Linked DNA regions of Homo sapiens: all the other regions are linked to region 3. The links come from fine-mapping of genetic effects on gene expression. A gene starts in region 3. Each other region holds a variant in brackets. All regions are shown on one strand. Distances are from middle to middle. Region 1 overlaps PIGK (phosphatidylinositol glycan anchor biosynthesis class K). Region 2 overlaps PIGK (phosphatidylinositol glycan anchor biosynthesis class K). Region 3 holds the start of PIGK (phosphatidylinositol glycan anchor biosynthesis class K).

The links.
Region 1: its variant is fine-mapped to the expression of PIGK in blood mononuclear cells (TOPMed, PIP above 0.99). The same link has a PIP of 0.9 or more in skeletal muscle.
Region 2: its variant is fine-mapped to the expression of PIGK in whole blood (INTERVAL, PIP above 0.99).

What each region holds. Positions count from the first base shown.
Region 1 is chr1:77,121,835-77,125,834 of GRCh38, reverse strand. PIGK (phosphatidylinositol glycan anchor biosynthesis class K) reads left to right here. Exons shown (of 11, transcript NM_005482.3): 10 at 3,476-3,560. Among named protein-coding and RNA genes, the nearest start is that of MIR7156, 64 kb to the right of the region's middle. The variant T/C (reference allele first, on the strand shown) is at 1,796.
Region 2 is chr1:77,096,595-77,100,594 of GRCh38, reverse strand. All of the region lies in intron 10 of PIGK (phosphatidylinositol glycan anchor biosynthesis class K), which reads left to right. Among named protein-coding and RNA genes, the nearest start is that of MIR7156, 38 kb to the right of the region's middle. The variant C/T (reference allele first, on the strand shown) is at 2,292.
Region 3 is chr1:77,217,348-77,221,347 of GRCh38, reverse strand. It overlaps PIGK (phosphatidylinositol glycan anchor biosynthesis class K), which reads left to right and starts at 1,918. Exons shown (of 11, transcript NM_005482.3): 1 at 1,918-2,038. The coding sequence starts at 1,946. LOC105378808 (a long non-coding RNA gene) reads right to left here and starts at 1,828. Exons shown (of 3, transcript XR_001738109.2): 1 at 1,695-1,828; 2 at 355-560. RefSeq lists an enhancer at 2,125-2,234.

The DNA.
Region 1 (4,000 bases), 96 kb after region 3:
CTTGAACTAGGAAACAAGTGGAAAATTAACAGATATGGTATTTAAAGTTATAATAAAACTTTTTTTGAAATAAAATGAGATCTGAATTTCCATATTGAAAGGACTCCTGTTTCCTGTATACCTGGGAAACTTGATTTATAACAATCAACTTTTAAGATATAGTATTAGACCTTAAAACAAAAGGGAAAATAAAAGCTGCCTGAGCTTCTAAGCCAATAAATTAGTAATTTAAAAATTAAAAGTAATTAAAAATGAAAATAATTAACATAGAACCAATTTAGCATCACACTTCTTGATATCAAAATAAAGCAAGAAAGCAATGGACATGTGTTTTTAAGAAATTATAAAAATGAGTAATCATTTTAATTGATTATGAAACACTGGATAAGTAAAATACTCATATATCCACAGTGATACTCAAGATTACTTGTGAATTGCATTTGGAAAAAGTGCTGCTGTTATTAAGAAACATTTCAGACATATCCTTGGTTGATAAACATTTTGCTGAAATATTTAGATGTGAACTGTCATGGTATCTGCAGCTCACTTTTAAATGTTTCCGTGAAAATAATATAAAAAATACAGAAACATGTTTGGAATTTTTCATAACAGCTACATGGCATTTTAAAAAGTTATTCAAAACAAGTTGCCAGATTTCAAATATTTTTGTATACCTAAAGAATATCTTTTATATTGAGTAAGAGACATTTTGTGAGAAAAAAATGTATTTCATCTTGTTTTAGATTTTTGGAAGAGCCAATGAAGAGTGACTTTGTCATATTTCTTTTATACTCTTAGAATTAATGTCAGTGATTTAATTTTTATTTTTTCAGAAGATATTTATTAAAACTGCTGGTGCCTTAACAGGAATCAAGGCACTGGAATCAAACTGCACAAGTGGTCACTGTATTCTTCCCACCATTGACCACAGTAGAAAAGAAACAAACAAAAATACATCATTTGCACTTAAGAATGTCCTTGATAAGGAAGGAAAAATATTGAGTTGTTCGCTTTTTTATTCTTGAGTTGTATTTATGCATTCTTAATACAAGTCCCTTTTTGGTTATATGATTTGCAAAAAGTTTCTCCCATTCTGTAGACTGTTTTTTCATTCTGATTGTGTCCTTTGAAACAAAGGAGTCTTGAAATTTGATGATGTCTATACAGTTTGTCTGCTTTTTCTTTTGTTGCTGCGTGTGTGTGTTTTTTTTTTTGTTGTTTGTTTGTTTTGAGACTCTTGCTCTGTCTCCCAGGCTGGAGTGCAGTGGCGCAGTCTTGGCTCACTGCAACCTCCATCTCCCGGGTTCAAGCAGTTCTCCTGCCTCAGCCTCCCAAGCAGCTGGGACTACAGGTGCGCACCACCATGCCTGGCTAATTTTTGTATTTTTAGTAGAGACGAGGTTTCACTGTGTTGGCCAGGCTGGTCTCGAATTCCTGACTTCAAGAGATGCACCCGCCTCGGCCTCCCAAAGTGCTGGGATTACAGGCGTGAGCCACTGTGCCTGGCCTGTATGTGTTTTTTATACATAATGTAAATAAACTTTTAAAAGATACACTGTGAAATGCTTTAAAGCAAGTTGTGTTTTTTTTTGGTCAATGAGTATTTACTTTAGTTTATTTTTTAATTGAGGTAAAAATATCTAATGCTAATAGATATTAGTTTGCTAGGGTTGCCATAACAAAATACCAGAGACTGGATGGCTTAAACAACATAAATGTATTTCCTCACAGTCTGGAGGCTAGATGATGTCAGCAGGATTGATTTCTCCTAAGGTCTCTCTCCTTGACGTGTAGA[T/C]GGCCATTTTCCTCTAGTGTCTTCATGTGATCTTTACTGTCTCGGTGTCCTGCGCTCCTCCTCTTATAAAGATACCAGTCATATTTGAGTAGGATCAACCCTAATGACCTCATGTAAGCTAATTACTACTTTAAAGACCCTGTCTACAAATACAGTCACGTTCTAAGGTACTGGTGGTTAGGCTTCAAAATGTGAATTTTGGAGTTTGTTGAAGGGCACAATTCAGCCCATAACAAATACATAACATAAAACGTATCATTTTAATCATTTTTCAGTATACACTTTAGTGGCATTAAATACATTTATATTATTGTGTAACTATCATCCCCCCATCCATCTCCAGAACTTTTTTCATCTTGCGAACGGAACCTCTATCTGTTAAACAATTACTCCCCAGTGTCCCCTCCTCCCAGCTCCTGGCAGCCACCATTCTGCTTTCTGTCTCTGTGAAACATGTTTTGAGGCAGTTTTTTTTTTCCATCATTAGTGAGAATCTTCAGAGTTCTCTCAAATTAAGCTAGTTATTTTTATGCAAATTCTGCAAGATATCCACAAACTTTTACCTAGATAAGAGGTTCTTGAAGCTCTTAAATCATATGAAAATTTTGTCTTTTTTTGTATATCTGCCTTTTTCATGGGAGAGATTCTAGAGTTCTCATTAGATTCCTTAACTGAAGCCCTAGAGACTTAGCCAATCTTGTTTCATTTATTTTTCAAGATAATTAAAGTTTAGTAATTTTTAAGTTGATAAGCTGATGTGTAATTCACAGAAAAGGCAAAAGGAAGTTTAAATGTTTTTAGGTTTTATTGTCTTGAAATCAAATGTTTACTTGCTATTTCTGAAAGGGTCAGTAATTTTAAAAATCATTATACTACATTTTCTTCATTTGAAAAGTTTTTAAATTTACTGTTTCATATTGTCCTAGATATGGATTATATCAGCTTTGTATCTCATTGTACATGTAGATATTAGAAATATTGTCTATATAAAATAACCTCTCAGAATTATTTTTATTTCATTTTATTCATATATTTATTATTCAGTCAATAAACATTTGAGTCTTTTTGATAAATATTAGATATACAAAGAAGAAGACATGGGTTTCATCTTCAAGGAAGTGAAAATAATATACCTAGATGGCGATAAACAAATTAATATATTAAAAAGAAGAATAAATAAAGAAGAGAATTGTTGGTTGGTCCAAACAGATATAACAGCACGGGGAAACTGAGAGACTCCTGGAGGTGCAAGTCCCAATGGGGTTTGGCCAGTAGTTAAATATAACTAAAACAGTAGACTGTTAAATAGAGAAAGGGTTGCTGGAGATGAGGCTTGAGTTTGGTTGGAGCCAGGTTTTGAAGACCTTTAAGTGCTATGAAAGAAACACCCTCTTTTGGACAGAGAATTCTGAAACATTTTTGTCTCAGAGAAAGACAGGATCTGAGAACATTAAGTGATGCTAGCTCATTTTATTGCATAGTTACTTAATGTAGTCTGAATACTTCTATAGTCATTTAAAATTTTTCAATGGTAGTGTTTCAAAGATTATTGATAAATACTGATTATTTCAAAAAAAATCTATGCATTTTACTATATTTCATATTTGACATATTTAAATATTTGCTATATTTCAAAATAGTATTTGCCTTAGCTCTGTGTTTTTAAATTATCTTTTCCAGCTATAAGGAAGACCAGATGGATGAGAAACTAATGGAACCTCTGAAATATGCTGAACAACTTCCTGTAGCTCAGATAATACACCAGGTTTGCATTTCATTTTATTCTTTTGAAAGAAACAAGATTTTTAATCGCTGAGAAGTAATTGCTTTTGTTAGGTTTTTCAGAATCAATGTGCTATAGCTGAAAGGCATTCTGGGCTGTCTATCCCTATTTAGACTACCCCTATTACAGTTGAAAGTCCCATTCAAAGCACAATATTAAAAGGCTACTTGCTGTTTAACACTAGAATTCTTACTTACATAAAATATGGGATAAAATAAGGATTATCTTTTGTGCATTATTTAATTATAAAATTTAATTTCAGAAAACTTTCATTTTGACCCATTGTGTATAGTACTTAGTGACAAGGAAAAAGAGCTGCAAAAATATCATTGAGAGTAATTTTTTGGAGTCACTAAAAAGAGAAAACAATCTTGCCCTGCATCCTTTACCCTGCCCAATCATCAACCCTTGCAAAGTATAAT
Region 2 (4,000 bases), 120 kb after region 3:
TTATATCCTCAGAATCCCTCATATGCCATATAATTCAGCCTAATCATAGGAGTGATAGTGCATCATATTCACAGGTCTTGTCCAGACTCAAGGGATAGGTATTATATAGGGCATTTATCCCAGGTTGAGGGAATCTTAGAAGCTGTCTTACATTCTGCCTACCACAGTTTGACTTACACTATTAATATAATTAGAGAAATACAAATTGCATTTTATATAAAGGATATAGATAGACTGGAAATACTAATAAACCACCACTAATTAAATAGTTGAACACAGCTATTTTCTGAAATAATTATAACTATAACCTTAGTAGATTGTTTTATACTTTCTGTCCTTAAAATACAATTTAACTGAACTCATATGCTCATTATACATTTAAGAATCTCATTGAAACCTTGGAAATTTTCCATTTGCTTCCCAATAAATGTGTACAGTTTTCAAAATCCTAAGTTTTTTCTTTTTACATAATTTTAATACTTAGATCTGTGCTCTGTTAACTATTTTTAAAGTTATGTGGTAATGTTCTCCTAGCAACATGGAGGGGGAAACTGAGTACTATTCGCAATTGGAAGTACAGTGTTGCTTAGCTACCTCTCTTTTAAATTTGAAATATTAAGGCATTTCAATAAGAGGGTAGCCCTTAAGCTTTTAAGTGTTTGCTTATAACATATTGCCGTGTTTTATGTACGCTTTTCACCTTTGTATTGTAACTTATTGTGAAAGTTTAAAAAAAGAGGAGTGCATTTAATGGCAGTCACTAGAGTACCTTAATACATAAAGTCAGTCATTTTTTTAAGAAGCTCTAATGGACACAAATGAAATTACAAGATATGCTTTAATATGAACTTACCTCAAATGCAGTTATACTGCCAAATGCAATAATTATACCAATTTTGTCACTTGATTGTAAGTAAAATCATTGTAAAATGTCTAAAAGGTTACATATAGTTGTTTTAAAAATAGCATTGTTGTCATATGTCAGCGATATCATTAAACACATACTGAAAAAGCACTTTATTACATTATGTTGCTGTAATGCTATCCGGGTTACTTTTTCTTAAAGTTGGACATCAGTAATAAACAGTGTTGCTGCAGTGTTTCTCCTATTTGGAAAGGAATATATGAAGATTCTTCTAGGTGGAGTCTTTCAATACAGATTTTTGCTGCATAATCCAATTTCTCCCCAAAATAACTAAAGTAAGACATACTCATTGTAGAAAACATTTTCAAAAGCTTAGGTAAGTATAGAGAAGAGATTTAAAGCCAACTGTATTCCTGCTTCCCCCAGAAAAACACTAAGACTTTAGTATGTTTCCCTTCTTTGAATATTGTTATAGGAAACATCATATTTCAGATTCAATTTGCATCTTGTTTCCATTTTACTATTTTAGTATAAGCATCTCCAAATCATTAAAATTATTTGAAAATATTTTTATTGATTAATATGTGGATGTACAATGTTTCCTGTATTATGTGACTATAGATTCCTTCCTGTTTTTTATTATGTAGCCACTGAGAAGAAAACCTTTGTGAGCGTTTCTGAATTCCTTAATATAGATCCTAGAAGTGTTACAAATCCTAGGAATTAGAGTAAATGAATATTTTAAAGACCTCTAAACATGTTAATGGGTTATTTTCCAGAAAAGTTAACTGTCCTTATTAACATTTACTGGTTTAATTGTAAGAAGAGAAAGAAATACTTAATATATTGTGTTTATGATGAAGAAAAATGATTTTTTTCAAGTGTTAGCCATTTGTAATTATTCTTTTGTGAAAATATTTCCCTGTTCCATTTATTGATATACCCTTGTGTCTTACTGATTTGCGGGAGACCCTCATGTATTGAATTTATCCCCTTTTCTGTCATAAATTCCATTTATGTGCCTTTTAATTTGATTTCTATACATTTTGAAATACAGATCTTTCCAAAAACTTTTGTAAAAATACCTTTGCAGCCAGGCGTGGTAGTTCACCCTGGTAATCCTAACACTTTAGGAGGCCAAGGTGGGTGGAGGATTGCTTGAGCTCAGGAGTTTGAGACCAGCCAGGTCAACATGGCAAAACCCTATCTCTGCCAAAAATACAAAAATTAGCCAGGCATGGTGGCATACACCTGTAATCCCAGCTACTTGAGGGAGGTGTTGAGGCAGGAGGATCACTTGAACTTGGGAGATTGAGGAGTCTGCAGTGAGCTGAGATAATGCCACTGCACACCAGCCTGTGTGACAAAGACCCTGTCTCAAAAAAAAAAAAATTTCCTCCACCTTCTCTTTATTTTCACTCACTGC[C/T]TTTAGGCTTATTAATAGCCTTATCGTACAGATTCTCCTACATTTTATCTCTTTTTTTTCTTCTTCTATTTTTACATTTAATTCTGAACCATGTAAAGTGTGTTTTTGTTTACAGTGTTGGGTTAGGAACAAAATTGATTTTGTTTCCAAATGCTAATCCATTGTTTACAGCACCAGTAGGACTACTATTCCCTTTCCCACTGATCTGTGATAGCCCTTTTATAATATACTAAATCCTGGGATACTGGACTGATTGTCTAGTTTCTATTCTGTTTTATTCGTCTTTCTACACTTGCATTGGAATCACATTATTGTTTAGCGTTATATATATTTTTTAATATTTCTGACTGTTTACCCCTCTCTGTAGAGTAATGTAGATTGTTTACCTTACATCTCATGTTATGGGTATTCATAGTTTTTTTTAATTGTTATTGTGAATGACATTTTTTTCTATTTTCTGACTCATATTTGCTGACATACTTGAAAGATAATGATTTTTTAAAATATTTATATGAAATCCGAGCCCTTTATTCTCAATAATTGTAAGAATTGATTTTATGGAGCTTTTTGATATCTAATAATCATATCTATGAGTAATGAAAATTTACTTTCCCTTCCTACATGTTATGTCTGGATTGGCTAGAAATTCCAGAGTAATGTTAACTAATAATGTTAACAATGGGTGTTCTTATCACAGGAAAGTTAAAATCACGATTAAGGAAAAACTGTGGTCATCTTTCAATTAAAACCCAAATCATAGTTGAAAACAAATCATCCTTAATTTTCTAGATTACATTAACTGCCTTGCACATTTATCATGGAAAAAGGTACATAAAGATCTTGGGTAGTGTGCATTTCTCCAGCACGGGCGCAACATGTGATTACCTCTAATTGGTAACTTTAAAGGGAAGAGGAACCAAACTTCAGATCTAGACTTCAGTTGGAAGATGCCTAAAGGGAAGCTAGATGAGTTAGTTTCTAGATTCCCCTGTGTCACCGTCATTTCCTTGAAAGCAATTCCTGGCATGGTGGCAGTTGGAGTTTCTCTCTTTCCGGAAGACTATAAAGGAGAGCTAGAGGAGAGCAGCACTGCATCTCCACTAAACTGAGGGCTTGATTTGCTGCCCGTCATGCTGTTCTTATGCCATTGTTAGAAAAACCCGAAGCTTTCCAATTTCATCCATGTCCCTACAAAGGACATGAACTCATCATTTTTTATGGCTGCATAGTATTCCATGGTGTATATGTGCCACATTTTCTTAATCCAGTCTATCATTGTTGGACATTTGGGTTGGTTCCAAGTCTTTGCTATTGTGAATAATGCCGCAATAAACACATGTACCCTAAAACTTAAAGCATAATTAAAAAAACAAACAAAACAAAACAAAACAAAAAAACAAAAAAACAAAAAAAAAAAAAAAAGAAAAACCCGAAGCTACAAGTATGGAGATGGGAACTTTTTCTGTTTTGTTATGGTGATAAAGGATCAGGGTTTTTCTTTTCTTCACGTTGTCACCGCTGTGGATGTATTTCATAACTTTTGATGTATCATGAACCACTCCAAACTTAGTAATTTAAAACATCAGTCATTTATTTAGCTCACAATTCTGCAAGTTGGCAATTTAGGATGAGTTTAGCTGGGCAGTTGTGTTCTCAGTTAGGCTCCGTCATGAGTCTGTGGTGTGGTCAACTTGATTAGTAAGATGGTT
Region 3 (4,000 bases):
GTGTGAGCCACTGCACCTGGCCTCTGATGGTTTTATAAAGGGTAGTTCCTCTGCACATGCTCTCTCACCTGCTGCCATGTAAGATGTGCCTTTGCTCCTTCTTCATCTTCTACCATGATTGTGAGGCTTCCCCAGCCATGTGGAACTGTGAGTCCACTAAGCCTTTTTCTTTAGAAATTATGCAGTCTTGGGTATTTCTTCATAGCAGTATGAAAATGGGTTAATACAAGTAAAGTCTCATCAAAGTGTGGGTATGAAGTTACATCTGGTCATGAATTTGAGGCATAATCATTAATCTTGTCAGACATTATCTTATGTACAGGAAGAGGCAAGGGCTAGGATCACCAAACTTACCTTTTGTAAAAATTCAGTGATTCAGGCAAGAGATGTGCAAACCTATTCCCTATCCTGCTTATGGTCTTCAAGGCATTCTTCCACAAGGCTGCTCACAGTCAATGAGTCAGGGGCTTTGTGAAATATTGCTGGCAAAGGAGCAGAATGAGCAAATGGCTTCTTATCTTTGCTACTTTGTTTCATAATCATCAGCATCCAATAGATATCTGTTGAATTAATGAATACATGGAAGATATTCTGGCAGTGTATTTACTTTCTAGGATTCACGTAACGGAAAACCTAAATTTGACTAAATAGCATGAAACCTCTCACAAAGTGCAATAGCAAAAGAAACAAATAAAAGGAAAAGAGAGACAAGAGAATGGGAAAAGCAATAGCATAAAATATGGCAAAGGCTAATGTTACTTATTTATAAATATATTATTCAAATTCATATGCAAAACATAAATATATAAACAAAGAATTTACATCAGAGGACACAGAGATAGTTTAGAAACACAAGAAAGACATCAGATCTTGATAGTAACCAAAGAATTATAAGTATAGTTACCTAGGGGTAACATTTCATACCAAAGAATTTAAAGGAAAAAAAATGGTATGGTTTGGTGTTGTGTATTCTGATAGTGCTGTAAGCTTGTTCATTTTGGAAAGCAACATCATTTATAGTTATTAAAATGTTTTGGAATATTTTGACCCCAAATTCCTAGTTCAGGAAAATTATACAAACAAAATAATTCAACAGATTTAAAAAGCCAAACACACAAAAGATACTCTTTACAATATTATTTTCATAGTAAAACTTAAAAACTTTGCATTGTGCAGCAGAGGGACAATTACTTTGGCTGAGGCATCAATAATGGATGGAATTTTATCTCACCATTAAATGTTAAAATTGTGAGGAAGCAGCGTGGAAACGTTTATGTCATACTAGATGAAATGCATAAATTAAAACTGAACTCACATAATAAAGAGAATGGTGGACCATACATATACACCAGCTGTGTCTCTTCCAGATAGGCTTTAGTTCCATAATTACAGAAGATACTCAAGAAACAAAAACGTAACTAGCTTCCCATGTTAATCCTTTCACCAGGTAGTAGACCCCAAGCCTCTAAATTGCAGCGCCCACCCACATTTTCCATTTATAGTTTATCCAATTAATCATCTTTTTGTGCCAAAACGCTTGTTCTTCCCACCACATCCAGCTTCATATTTTCAAAGAATTGGCAGCACTCGGCAAAATAAATAAATAAATAAATAAATAAATAAATAAAATAAATAAGGGAACAGAGAAATAAGTTTTTAAAGTTTAAGGAGTTACGGGTTTTCCCTCCACTCACCTTTCAATTTTTTTTCTTAAATGTTATACCTATTTTACAACCTCCAAACTGAAAATGCAGTTAAAAATAAAAAGGTCAATATCCTGCGTCTACCTTGTCCCGGACTCTCGAGCTCCACAAAACCGCAGAGTTCTAAAGCCGGACCAGAGGGCCACCTCGAAGAGGCGCGGATGGTGTCGCAAAAACCCGCAGCGCTACTTTACGGCACTGCCTCCGCCCCTTCAGGTGCGGGAAGTCTGAAGCCGGTAAACATGGCCGTCACCGACAGCCTCAGCCGGGCTGCGACTGTCTTGGCAACTGTGTTGCTCTTGTCCTTCGGCAGCGTGGCCGCTAGTCATATCGAGGTAGGAGTCAGGCTCATTTGACCACAGCCGGGAGGCCGGCTGTGAGCCCTCCAGCAGATGTCCGATACACAGTAGCTGAGGGACGCCTCCTGGAGTCAATCAGCCCCTGACCCAGGCTGGGTTTGAGGAGGGTATCACTGGGCACGGGTTAGGACACTGTTGGTCTGTTTCAGCGTTTTAAAACGATGAATTGAAATAATCAAACCCTCGGAGACAGAGGAGGACCTGATCCTTTGCTCCTACATGTGTGCAGTTCTTAGGTGAAATACGAGCAAGAGGCTCGTGAAATGTCAGTGTGCAGCAACTGCTTTCCTACTACTCAACTGCAGCCCTCTGTTTTGATAGGAGTCAGACGGAACTGGAGAGATGAGGGCAATTTTAAGAATCCAGATAATAGAATTTAGTGATAATTAGAACATGGGATAAATATAAGTGTTTATTAAAACTCTCAAGTTTCTGGCTTAGGGGCAACACGTCTGGGTTAAGAAATGGAAGAGAAAAGGGGTGCTTAGTTTTATCCTGGGCTCCTCCAGCTTCCCATTTTTAAACGTGGACACAGGATGTTCTGGTGCTCTATAATGCTTTTACTATTCACCATACTCTGATGATTCCTCAGTCCCGGTCTACAATCTAGATGTCTGGTATCTTTTTCAGGCCTGCATATCCAGCTGACTAAGAATCCGGGATAGTCAGGAGACATTTGAAAATCCGTGTGCAAAGTTTTATCTTCTGCTTATCCTACCTCCTCTTAAAAAGACACTGAAAAACTAAGCACCCCTTTTCTCCTCCATTTCTCAACCAGATGTGCTGCTCCTAAGCTAGAAACCTGAGAGTCTTAATCTCTTTATCCCATATTCTAATTATCACTAAATTTTGTGATCTGAGTTCTTAAAATTGCCCTCACCTCTCCAGTTCCACTGACTTAATTCAGGCTGTGATCACTTCTTGTCTAGACTCTTGCGATTACTTTATCTTGTTTTCCATAGGCCTCCATACTCCCTGAGTTTGGTGCTAGATTCGTCTACACGAAATGTAAGCCTGATCAGGTTATTCTTCTGATGAAATCTTTTAAATATTTATTAATTGCATACAGAATAAAGTCTAAACGTTATGACCTGGTGCTTGCCTACTTTTCCAGTGTTCCATATTGGAACCTCTTCTCCCCACCACCTGGGCACCTTGAGCTTAGACCAGTGGACTCCAAACTTTTTGAATACACACCCTATCAGTTAAAAAAAGATATTGAGCATGAACTTCATATATATTTATGAATTACTGTTAATTTATATATTTGATGTTTATATAGCATAATTTTTAGAGAACATAAATATGAGTAAATAGAAGTTCTGTTTCCCTCCTTTATTCTAACTTTGACTGCTTCATCTTGGATACTATTACTGTTTTTTGTAGTTACATAATTGCTGTGCTTTTTCACATTACAATATTTTATACATTGTGTTTCCTCTGTTCATGTGCTAAGATACAGTAAAGGCATAACCTCTGTAGAACGTTTCCCTATCTCTTACCTTTGCCTTTACTCTTGTAATTTGTACACTTGATACAGCACTCATTTACTATAACCCGTGTATGGTTTGTACTGTTATTCCATCATATCTCACTTAGAGATAGGAGCAACAGTTTCCTAAATGTTTTGCCTTGAGTCGTTGTTTTTTCCTTTCAATCTGTTCTCCAAATTGAAGCCAGAGTAACTTTTAAAAATGCAGTTCCAATCATGTCACCCAGGGACCTTGATGTTGCTCAAAAGATCACCTTAATGTTGCTCTAAACTCTCCACCATGACCCACAAACAAAAACCCTGCATATTTTTTGGGCCCTGACTACACTTCAAATTTTTTCTTTCTCTTTCAAACTTCTAGTTAGGCTAACTTTCTTTCAGTTTCTCAAAACCTTTAAGCTTTTTCTCACATTAGAGCTGTCTCCCCTCTGTCTGGAATTGTATTT